Regions from separate parts of the Homo sapiens genome. Here region 1 is linked to region 2. The links come from fine-mapping of genetic effects on gene expression. A gene starts in region 2. The other region holds a variant in brackets. All regions are shown on one strand. Distances are from middle to middle. Region 1 overlaps KCNK13 (potassium two pore domain channel subfamily K member 13). Region 2 holds the start of KCNK13 (potassium two pore domain channel subfamily K member 13).

Region 1 (5,372 bases), 30 kb after region 2:
TGAGTCTTTCCTGTGCTATTCTCATGATAGAGAATGAGTCTCATGAGATCTGATGGTTTCAGAAACAGGAGTTTCCCTGCATGAGCTCTCTTTGCTTGCCACCATCCATGTAAGACTTGACTTCTCCTCCTTGTCTTCTGCCATGATTGTAAGGCCCCCCAGCCATGTGGAACGTAAGTCCATTAAACCTTTTTTTCTTCCCAGTCTCGGATATGTCTTTATCAGCAGCATGAAAACAGACTAATAGAGTAAATTGATACCAGTAGAGTGGGGCATTGCTGAAAAGATACTTGAAAATGTGGAAACAACCTTGGAACTGGGTAACAGGCAGAGACTGGAACAGTTTGGAGGGCTCAGAAAAAGACAGGAAAATGTGGGAAAGTTTGGAACTTCCTAGAGACTTGTTGAATAGCTTGGACAAAAATGCTGATAGTGATATGAACGATAAGGTTCAGGCTGAGGTGGTCTCAGACAAAGATGAAGAACTTGTTGGGAACTGGAGCAAAGATGACTCTGGTTATGTTCAGCAAAGAGACTCAAGGCATTTTGCCCCTGCCCTAGAGATTTGTGAAACTTTGAACTTGAGAGAGATGATGTAGGGTGTTTGGCAAAAGAAATCTCTAAGCAGCAAGGCATTCAAGAGGTGCTATTGAAGGTGCTGTTAAAGGCATTCAGTTTTATAAGGGAAATAGAGCATAAAGTTTGGAAAATTTGCAGCCTGACAATATGATAGAAAAGAAAATCCCATCTTCCGAGGAGAAATTCAAGCTGGCTGCAGAAATTTGCATAAGTAACGAGGAGCCAAATGTTAATCCCGAAGACAATGGGGAAAATATCTCCAGGGCATGTCAGAGGTTTTCACAGTAGCCCCTCCCATCACAGGCCCGGAGGCCTAGGAAAATAATGGCTTTGTGGGCCAGGCCCAGGGTCCCCGTGCTGTGTGCAGTCTAGGGATTTGGTGTCCTGTGTCCCAGACAATCCAGCCATGACTAAAAGGGGCCAAGGTACAGCTCAGGCTGTGGCTTCAGAGGGTGCAAGCCCCAAGCCTTGGTAGCTTCCGTGTGGTGTTGAGCCTGCAGGTGCACAGAAGTCAAGAATTGAGGTTTGGGAACTTCTGCCTAGATTTCCGAGGATGGTGGAAATGCCTGGATGTCCAGGTGGAAGTTTGCTTGAAGGGGCGGGGCTCTCATGGAGAACCTCTGCTAGGGCAGTGTGGAAGTGTGGGGTTGTAGCCCCAACAAAGAGTCCCTACTGGGGGCCCCTACTGGGGCACCACATAGCAGAGCTGTAAGAAGAAAGCCACTATCCTCCAGACCCCAGAATGGTCAATCCACCGACCGCTTGCACCATGTGCCTGGAAAAGCCAGACAATACCAGCCATGAAAGCAGCCGGGAGGGAGGCTGTGTCCTGCAAAGCCACAGGGGCAGAGCTGCCCAAGACCATGGGAACCCACCTCTTGCATCAGCATGACCTGGATGTGAGACATGGAGTCAAAGGAGATAATTTTGGAGCTCTAAGATTGGACTGCCCTGCTGGATTTCAGACTTGCATGGGGCCTGTAACCCCTTTATTTTGGCCAGTTTCTCCCATTTGGAGTGGGTATACCCAATGCCTGAACCCCCATTGTATTTAGGAAGTAACTAACTTGCTTTTGATTTTACAGGCTTATAGGCAGAAGGGCCTTGCCTTGTCTCCAATGAGATGTTGGACTGTAGACTTTTGAGTTAATGCTGAAATGAGTTAAGATTCTGGGGGACTGTTGGCAAGGCATGATTGGTTTTGAAATGTGAGGACATGATATTTGAGAGGGGCCAGGGCAGAATGATATGGTTTGGCTGTGTCCCCACCCAAATCTCATCTCGAATTGTAACTCTCACAATTCCCACGTGTCATGAGAGGAACCCAGTGGGAGGTAATTGAATCATGGAGGTGGGTTTTCCCATGCTATTCTCGTGATAGTGAATGTGTCTCATGAGATCTGGTGGTTTTAAAAACAGGAGTTTCCCTTCACAAGCTCTCTTTGCCTGCCGCCATCCATGTAAGGCATGACTTGCTCCTCCTTGCCCTCTGCCATGACTGTGAGGCCTTCCCAGCCATGTGGAACTATAAGTCCATTAAACCTCTTTTTTGCCAGTCTCGGGTACCTTTATCAGCAGCATGAAAACAGAATAATACAGGGAGCTCAGTGCTTCTTCTGGTCCCACCTGCCTAGGCTGAGTGTCACCTGCCATTCATCTCTATGTTTGACCTCTTTCCTGTCCCTTGGCTCAAGTGCCGAGGTTCCTCTTGTCTCTGAGATATGTGAACCAAGTGATCTTATCACCTAGATTTTTAATCAGAATCTCAAGAAAGAGTTAGAGGGCCCCACATGATATTATTTTTTTAAATTGCATCCAGTTTGATCATGGAGCAGTCAAGGTTTTCCTGATGGGGTGCATGGAGATTTTATTCCATTCTTGTTGATTTCCCTCTGGGTGTCCCAATCAGTAGGCGCAAGAGCTTTTCCACTTAGGATATTTAATTAATGAGAATCGAACCGGTAAAGAATGAACTCTATGGCTGGCTAAAGGTTTTCCTATGGGAAATTAAGACCCACTAACTGGAAATGGTGAAAAGTGACAAGTTCAGAGGAAACTCAGTACAGTCATTAAAAATGTATCAAGTCCTATACAGTAGCCAGTTGACACAGCACAGTCAAAGAAAAATAGCATCTCTAAGGTCTTGTTGGATACCATCCATGTTGATTTTGGATAATGCCCAAAAGCCTGTTTCTGGGGGAAAGGCTGCTCTTAAACCTGGAATGCAGAA[C/T]ACTGGGCATGCCAAATGCCTCATTATTTATGAGTTCCATGCAGACAGTGATGCATGAAGGGTAAAAGACATGCCAATACCCTCTTCTCGGTGGGGTAGAGTGCTCCTGAAGATGATTTAGGAAGTGAGGTTTGAAACAGAGTCTATGGAGAGAGTCCTGGAGTTACCAGTGCTGGCAGGGGAGAAGGAGAAGACCATCAGAAAAGCAGTGGTAGCTATGTTAAGAATTGCATTATTATGTACTTACCTAAACGTTGGCAAGAATGCTGTTATTTAAGAATAAAATCAATTTCATTTTGGGAAAGAGAACTCCTTTTTTTTTTTTTTTTGAGACAGAGTCTCACTCTGTCCCCCAGGCTGGAGTGCAGCGATCTCAGCTCACTGCAGGCTCTGCCTCCCAGGTTCACGCCATTCTCCTGCCTCAGCCTCCCGAGTAGCTGGGACTACAGGTGCCCGCCACCACACCTGGCTAATTTTTTTTATTTTTTAGTAGAGATGGGGTTTCACCATGTTAGCCAGGATGGTCTCCATCTCCTGACCTCGTGATCTGCCCGCCTTGGCCTCCCAAATTGCTGGGATTATAGGCGTGAGCCACCGCACCCAGCCGGGAGCTCCATTCTTAAAGACACTTTTTGCAAACATTTACCTTGCAAAACATTTGTAGTGACTCCTCTGTGAACAACTCCATGTTGATTGGGAGGTAGAGAGAAACCCACTGCTAAACTACATCCATCTGTGCAGGTTTTTCTTTCTAATAATTGATATTCCATGAAAAGAGGAGAGGCTTTGTCATGGGGAAAATGTAGGTTATGAAACACAGATGCAGTAAGGGCACACTTAAAAAGAAAGAACAACACTGAGGTTTGCAGGCAAGACATAAGGAAACATGGAGGACAGAGGTCAAAGGGAGCATTTTGGAGGAGCAGGAAAGCCCTCTAGTGATTAAGAGGATGGATGGGATCAAAAGATACAGAAGACCAGCTTTTCAGAATTGAGTGTTTTCATTTCTCTGCCTTTAAAGAAACATCACAAGGCCAGGCTTGGTGGCTCATGCCTATAATCCCAACACTTTGGGAGGCCAAGGAGGGAGGAGTTTGAGACCAGCCTGGGCAACATAGCAAGATCCCATCTCTGCAAAAACTAAAAAATTAGCTGGGCCTGATGGTGCATGCCTGTAATCCCTCTACTCAGGAGGCTGAAGTGGGAGGTTTGCTTGAGCCCAGGAGGTCGAGGCTGCAGTGAGCCATGACCATGCCACTGCACTCTAGCCTGGATGACAGAGTGAGACCCTGTCTCCAAAAAAAAAAAAAAAAAAAAAAGCATCACGATACTCAGAAACAGGCGAGGGAGACTAAACACCCACCATTTCTTAGACCCTTAATTTGCGCTGGGTGCTAAGCTTCCTCTGGGTATGGGGTGGACACTCCAAATAGGGGCCCCAATTCCAGTAATTAAATGTGTTGAGCCAGGCACTGCACTAAGTGCTAGTGTAAGTGCATCATCTCATTGGATCCTCACAACAACACTCCATGCAAGATGAGGAAACTGAGACAGGAAATTTGCTCCTCACTGCACAGCCAGCAGAAAGAGAGGCAGATCCGCTTGGCTCCAGGGACCACGCTTCTTCTAGATGTCTGTGTCACCCTCAAAGCCTCAGATTGTATTGTGAACTAATTAACTAGTTGAGCAGAACGTTCCCCAAACACATGGTGTAGAATTGCTATTGTTCTCCCAGCATTGATGAAGAAAATTAACTCGCAGTAATATCAGTTGGAGATGGAGTCAGTCCCATTTCCACTTGATTTTATTCTTCCTTGATAGTTTTCTGAATAACAGCCTGTTACTATTGCCCTGATTTCTCTTTGCCACCTCTACATTTTAAGCAAATCTAGGGCAAGTCAGGAAGCAGGATGGATGCTTTTGATGCTGTATTCCGAGGCACCCCTGGTCCTCCCCAGCGTGCCCAGCCTAAATTAGATGAAGTGGAAATGTTGCAAAAGGGCTGAAGGGGCCCCCATGGAGAGCAGATGGTGGTTGGGGTTATTTGAGGTTTCCTGTGGAGATTCTCTGTCTCCCATTCACTTGCAGAGAACATTATGGGCTGTCTCAGTTCCATAGGGTGGCATCCCTCCCAGCCATCCTCCCAGAGCATTCTAAAGTTTCCTTGTTCATGGGTGGAGATTTATGTCAAATCCTCATTCCTGGAACTCTGGAATACAGTCTGAAGTCTTGATATTTGGATTGCCTTGAATGTGCTTATTCTGTAACTGAATAAGTGCCTAGCATTTGGTAATACTGATTTATTATATAATTGACTTGCCATATTGGGATTTGTTTTAATGGGATTTGCAGGGGGTGCCATTTTCCACCTCTGGCCTCTTTCTCTCATGACAGCAGATCTCTTCTGCTTGAGCTTTCACTCCATGGAGAAGGGTGAGACAGACATCTCTGAGGTCGTGCTGTCTGCATGGAACCAGGAGCTCCTTGTCTGTCTCTATCTCATTCCCCTGTGTGTGCCTGCACCTTGCACAAGGCTGGCATGCCATAGGCCTCAGTAAATATT
Region 2 (5,312 bases):
AGAAAATTCACAAGAGAAGGTACACAAGTGGCCAGCAAGCGCATTAGACATCAGGGAAATGCAAATTAAAACCACAGTGAGATATCGCTACATCCACCAGTATTTTTAGACATCAGGGAAATGCAAATTAAAACCACAGTGAGATATTGCTACATCCACCAGTAGTTTTAAAATTAAAATGACTGATACTGCCAAATGTTGACAAAGATACGGAGCATCCAGAACTAGTGTACACTGTCAGTACAGCTGCTTTGGGAAAATGTCGGGCAGTTTCTCATAAAGCAAAATACATACCTACCCTATGACCCAGCAATTCCGCTCCTAGGTCTTTACGTAAGAGATATGAAAACATATGTCTACATAGTTGTACAAGAATGTTCCTAACAGTTTTATTTATGATGACCAAAATTTTCTAACAGTTCTCCTTTCTATCAATAGGAGGAGAATGAATAAACAAACTATGGTATACCCAAACAATGAAAAACTAGCAATAAAGAGGAAGGAATTACTAAGACATATAACATGGGTAAATCTCAAAAACATAATGTTTTCCACCAAAGAGTACATACCGGCATGATTCCATTTATATGGAGATTTAGAACAAAAAAACAGTTCTATAAAAGCGAAAGTAATCGATGGTAGAAAAATTCTGAACAGTGGTTTTCTCTGGAGGAATGTGGGTAGGGAGTTACAGGGAAGGGACTTAGGGGGACCCTGTTGGTGATGTTTGGCTGGTAGGTTGGATAGGTGATTTGCAGAGGTGTACCCATTTGTCAGAACTCACCTAATGATACACTTAAGATTTGTGCATTTCATTGTATGTAAATTTTATCCGAAAAGGAAAAAAATTCTGCAAGTAAATATTGAACCCTACGTAGTGATATGCAGGCAGAAGTACTGGGGATGAGGGCGGAAGTGTACCAAGCTCTGCAACTTACTCTGAAATGCATCCAAACAAGATGGGTTGATGGATGGACAGAGGGACGGGTAGATATCTAATAAATCAAGTATAGTAACATGTTAATTGTAGAATCTAGGTGGTGGGTATACGGGTGTTCACTGTAAAATTCAACTTTTTAGAATGTTTGAAATTTTTCATAATAAAATGGATTTAAAAGGTAATTGCAGTACTCACCCTGGGTGTATACACATGCACCCATTCTCGCGATGCCCCTAAAGCTCTTGCCCCTCAGAAGGCTAGATGAAAGAGGGGCATTGGGGAGTGAGTAACAGAGCCGAGAGGACTGCTAACAGCACCAGGGTTTCTGATGAAAATGCACTCGCCAGAGCTGTGTTTCTTTATTCGAAATCACACGGTTTTACTCAACAGGGCTCCTAGCCCTTCTGTCTCTGCTCCTGGTGCGTAAGGGCGGTGTGTGGGGCTCTGCGCCTGAAACCGCTCTCTCGGAAGGTGGGAAGATGCCCACGTATCCATTCCTCTCCGCGTACAGATTCGCTCCCACACGCCCGGGCGGGTGATTCCGGAGGGCCGCGCGGGGCTGTGTGCGCGGGCGGGGGCGGGATGTGTCTGGAGGGGGCAGAGCGCCCTCTCCCGGCCCCGGAGGGCCCACGCGGACCGGCTGAGCGTCCCACCAGCCGGTTCTGCATCCACTACCCAGATCTGCGCGCCCTGGTGGGAGCACCGCAGCCCCGGGTCGGCCCTTCGAACGCCGAGCGTCTACCCGCGGAGACCAGCGCAGGAGGCGGGCCCGCGCGCAAGGAGGCGGGCGACAGGGTGGAGTCGCCGCAGCTGGCAGCCGCACGGCTCTACCTGTTGCAGCGTCGGAGCGCGCCCGCCTGAGAAGGCAGAGCGCGGTGCGGACCTGTGCTCCGCGCGCCGGCTGGCAGGGCAGGGCCGCGGCTGCCAGGAGGCCCGGGAACAGTCCCGACGGAGCGGCGCGGAGAGGGCGCTCCCCGGAAGGTGAGATCTGAGCGCGGCAGCGGCGCCAGCGCCCGCTACAAGGCGGGGTCTCGGGGAGGGGGCCCCGGCGGTTTGCTGGAGAGCCTTGCTACTGTTCTGCATGAGGTGGGGGATGCCTTCTGCGCGGACCCCGCGTCCAGGCAAAACTCTGGAACGCACTAGGCAGCCAAGCCCGGGGGGAAGAGATGGAACGCTCCAAGGTCAAGGTCTCCTGGCCGCGGAGCCCTTCCAGCCCCCAGTGTTTGGCCTCCTCTCCGGAAGCGGGGCTGGCTCGCGGTGCGCGCTTGGTCCGGGCGGAGCCTACTAGTAGGCGCAGAGGACGCCCCCGCGCAGGATCCAGAGACCAAGGGCGCTCTGGCATGGTCAAGGCGAGGGAGGCTGCCCGGGGGAGAAGCCCCTAACTTCCTTTGCTCCCTGTTCCAACCTCCCTTTCTGGTCTCCTCTCTCCAGCCCGTCCGCCCAACGGATGCGCAGCGTTGGGGCCCGGCCGGAGGTCGGAGCCCTCGGACGCCGCAGCCCTCGGACGCCGCTCAGCACAGCCCCTCTCTCCGTGCGCCCGCCCTGGACCCCCTCCATCCCTAAGCCCCGGCAGCCGATTCGGAGACTCGGGAGGCCACAGGCTCAGCGCGACACCACGACCACAACTAGGAGGCACCATCGTCGATCTACCTGGGGAGGCACCTACAAAGCCAGCAGACTGACACCCGTGTCCTAGCCGTCGGCGGCCTGCGAAGCGATAGTCAAAGGAACCAGGACCCAGGACCCCGGCGCTCTGCTTACCCGCAGACCTCCGGACCGCGCCCCCCCCCCGCCGCCCCGCCCCGCCCCGCCCCGCCCCGCGACCGTCTCTTTGCGGGAAACTCGAGTTGGCTCGAGCTTGCCCTGAAGACGCGCCACGCCCCCTCCCCTATCTGAGCCGGACAGGGAGCCGGGGTGGAAACTGCGCCCGCATCCCAGCGCCAAGCAGACGTGAACTCTGCGCCCGTTCCCCGGGACCTTCAGCGTTAAGGAGAACTCCGAGGAGAGCAGGGGGAGTGGAGGGGAACGGCGGCGACAAAGCGGATTTGAAACTAGGAGTCAAGGAGGACGTGGGGAGCTGGCGCCACAGGAGCTACCGAGGCGGCGGCCGGGGGAGCCTCGCGGCCTGCGGGAGAGCCCGGCGGTCATGGGCGAGCCGGCGGTGGGGCGCCCGGGAGCTGGCTGAGCGCCGGGGCCCTTATTTCCCGGGGGTGTGGGCGAGACTCCGCCGACGCCCGGTGCCGTGGGCCTGGGGGCTGCCCCCGGGGGCCCGGCCATGGCTGGCCGGGGTTTCAGCTGGGGCCCGGGCCACCTGAACGAGGACAACGCGCGCTTTCTGCTGCTGGCCGCGCTCATCGTGCTCTACCTGCTGGGCGGCGCCGCCGTCTTCTCCGCGCTGGAGCTGGCGCACGAGCGCCAGGCCAAGCAGCGCTGGGAGGAGCGCCTGGCCAACTTCAGCCGCGGCCACAACCTGAGCCGCGACGAGCTGCGCGGCTTCCTCCGCCACTACGAGGAGGCCACTCGGGCCGGCATCCGCGTGGACAACGTCCGCCCGCGCTGGGACTTCACCGGCGCCTTCTACTTCGTGGGCACCGTCGTTTCCACCATAGGTAAGTGTGCTGGCCGGACTCGCTGACAACCTCCGGGCGGCCTCCACTTCCTCCGGGGGGCAGGACCGACCCTCTCATCCTTTCATTCATCCATCTGGGCGCCCAGCCAGACTCCACTGACATGAGCTGTCGCCTGATCAACAGGTGGTATTGCCTCCCCGCTGCTCTAATGTGGTCCAGGCACCGGCAGCTTCAGCGTCACCTGGCAGCTTGTTAGAAATGCAGTCTCAGTCCCCTCTGCAGACCTGCCGAGTCAGAATCTGCATGTTAACAAAGTCCCCAAAGGATTGGAATGATCCTTAAATTGGAGACGCTCTGCTCTGGGAGATTTTCAGTCTAATGAAGGAGACACGGCTTGAGTTCATGGGGAAGAAGGCTTTTACAGATAGGGACAGGAAACTAAACATTTACTGAGTCAGTCAGAGGGGAAGTGCAGATTTTAAAAGATTCTGCCCTCGACTTCACACTTACCGAGAAAAAATCAGAACAGCAGACTGAAAGTGAGGAAGCAAAAGTGCCAATGACGGTTCAAAAGATGGAAAATTTTCCACCAGGAAGAACCAGGGAAGTGACCTTTGGGCTGAATCAATTCGTGTTAGGCATAACTTGGGTTTGGGAACTGAAAGCGCGGTTGCACTCTAGAGTAGGAGAGAATCGCACTCAGGGGCCCCATGAGCTGGTTGGAGTGGTGGAAGGAAGACTAGGAAGGTCTGCTGGCTAATGGGATGGAGGCGGGGGTAGGACCTTCACTGACAGACTGAGGAGCTGGAATTTACCTAGAGGCACCTGGGAGCCATTGAGAATTTTTTAGCAAAGATGTAGCACAGCTACAATCAGCTGTGTTTATTTCCCAGCAGAAGGAAAATGATTTGGGGGAGTCTGCGCCACACCCCTAAAGATTGTTCATCCTTGAAGAATAATCAAGTGATTAATGGGGGTTAGGGAAGATGCTGTAGAAATAAATTCTGAGGGGGGCAAAAAGAGACCTGGAGCAGGGGAGGGAGGTTGGAAGAGTTAGACGGAGAGGAAGTGGCCTCCAAGCTGCAAAAAAGGCTGGCAGTTGCAAACAGCCCAGGGTGCATGTGCTGAGCGCTCTGTAGCTACTGCCCCTGTGCACTCTAGAAGAGCTCGCTGGTGAGGTGGGGCGACAAGTTGAGCCTCCTTGAGGCTCCCACACATGGCTGTGCTACATAGACATTCTGCCAGGAGAAGCAGCACAAAAGACAAAAGAGATTGGCTTCAGGTCAGATTCATCATGAAAGACTTCCCAGGGCTAGTCCAGGAATCCAGGGCTTCAGCTGATGCACAGGAGGCGAGGCAGAGGACCAGTATGATTAGGGACACACCGGCTGTATCTGAAGTGCCTGGCTCCCAGCCCCCATCCCATCCCAGATGGTGCGGCCCATCAGCAGGCCATGATGGCACCACCATAACTGGGTATCAGGCAGGAAACCTTGCAGCAGACCAGAATGGGCCCAAGATTGGTGAAGGAGGAATAACACCCCCATGGTTCTCCCCCTGAGCCCACACTATCTGCTGGACTCTTAGCCGTGTTCCACAAGCCCCTCCTCACATCACCTCCCACGTCCCAGAAGACAGTTCCAGAATCTCCACATAGGCAAGACTTGGGATGAACAAACTGATTAGGAGGTGTCACTTTGGAAGTGACCTTGACTCTACTGTGTTTGCATAGCAAGTACAGGATTTTTTTAGATTGAATGGTAACTTAGGGTGGTTTTGATGGGAGATTTGATGGCTGAATC

Evidence for each region.
Region 1: its variant is fine-mapped to the expression of KCNK13 in left ventricle (GTEx, PIP above 0.99). The same link has a PIP of 0.9 or more in atrial appendage and thyroid.

The regions. Positions count from the first base shown.
Region 1 is chr14:90,088,807-90,094,178 of GRCh38, forward strand. The region is part of intron 1 of KCNK13 (potassium two pore domain channel subfamily K member 13); the gene reads left to right. Among named protein-coding and RNA genes, the nearest start is that of KCNK13, 29 kb to the left of the region's middle. RefSeq lists an enhancer at 616-1,116. The variant C/T (reference allele first, on the strand shown) is at 2,810.
Region 2 is chr14:90,058,991-90,064,302 of GRCh38, forward strand. It overlaps KCNK13 (potassium two pore domain channel subfamily K member 13), which reads left to right and starts at 3,004. Exons shown (of 2, transcript NM_022054.4): 1 at 3,004-3,549. The coding sequence starts at 3,216. LOC124903406 reads left to right here. Exons shown (of 3, transcript XM_047432048.1): 2 at 1,412-1,921; 3 at 2,372-2,743. The coding sequence ends at 2,636. RefSeq lists a silencer at 1,307-1,696 and enhancers at 1,945-2,446, 2,447-2,946.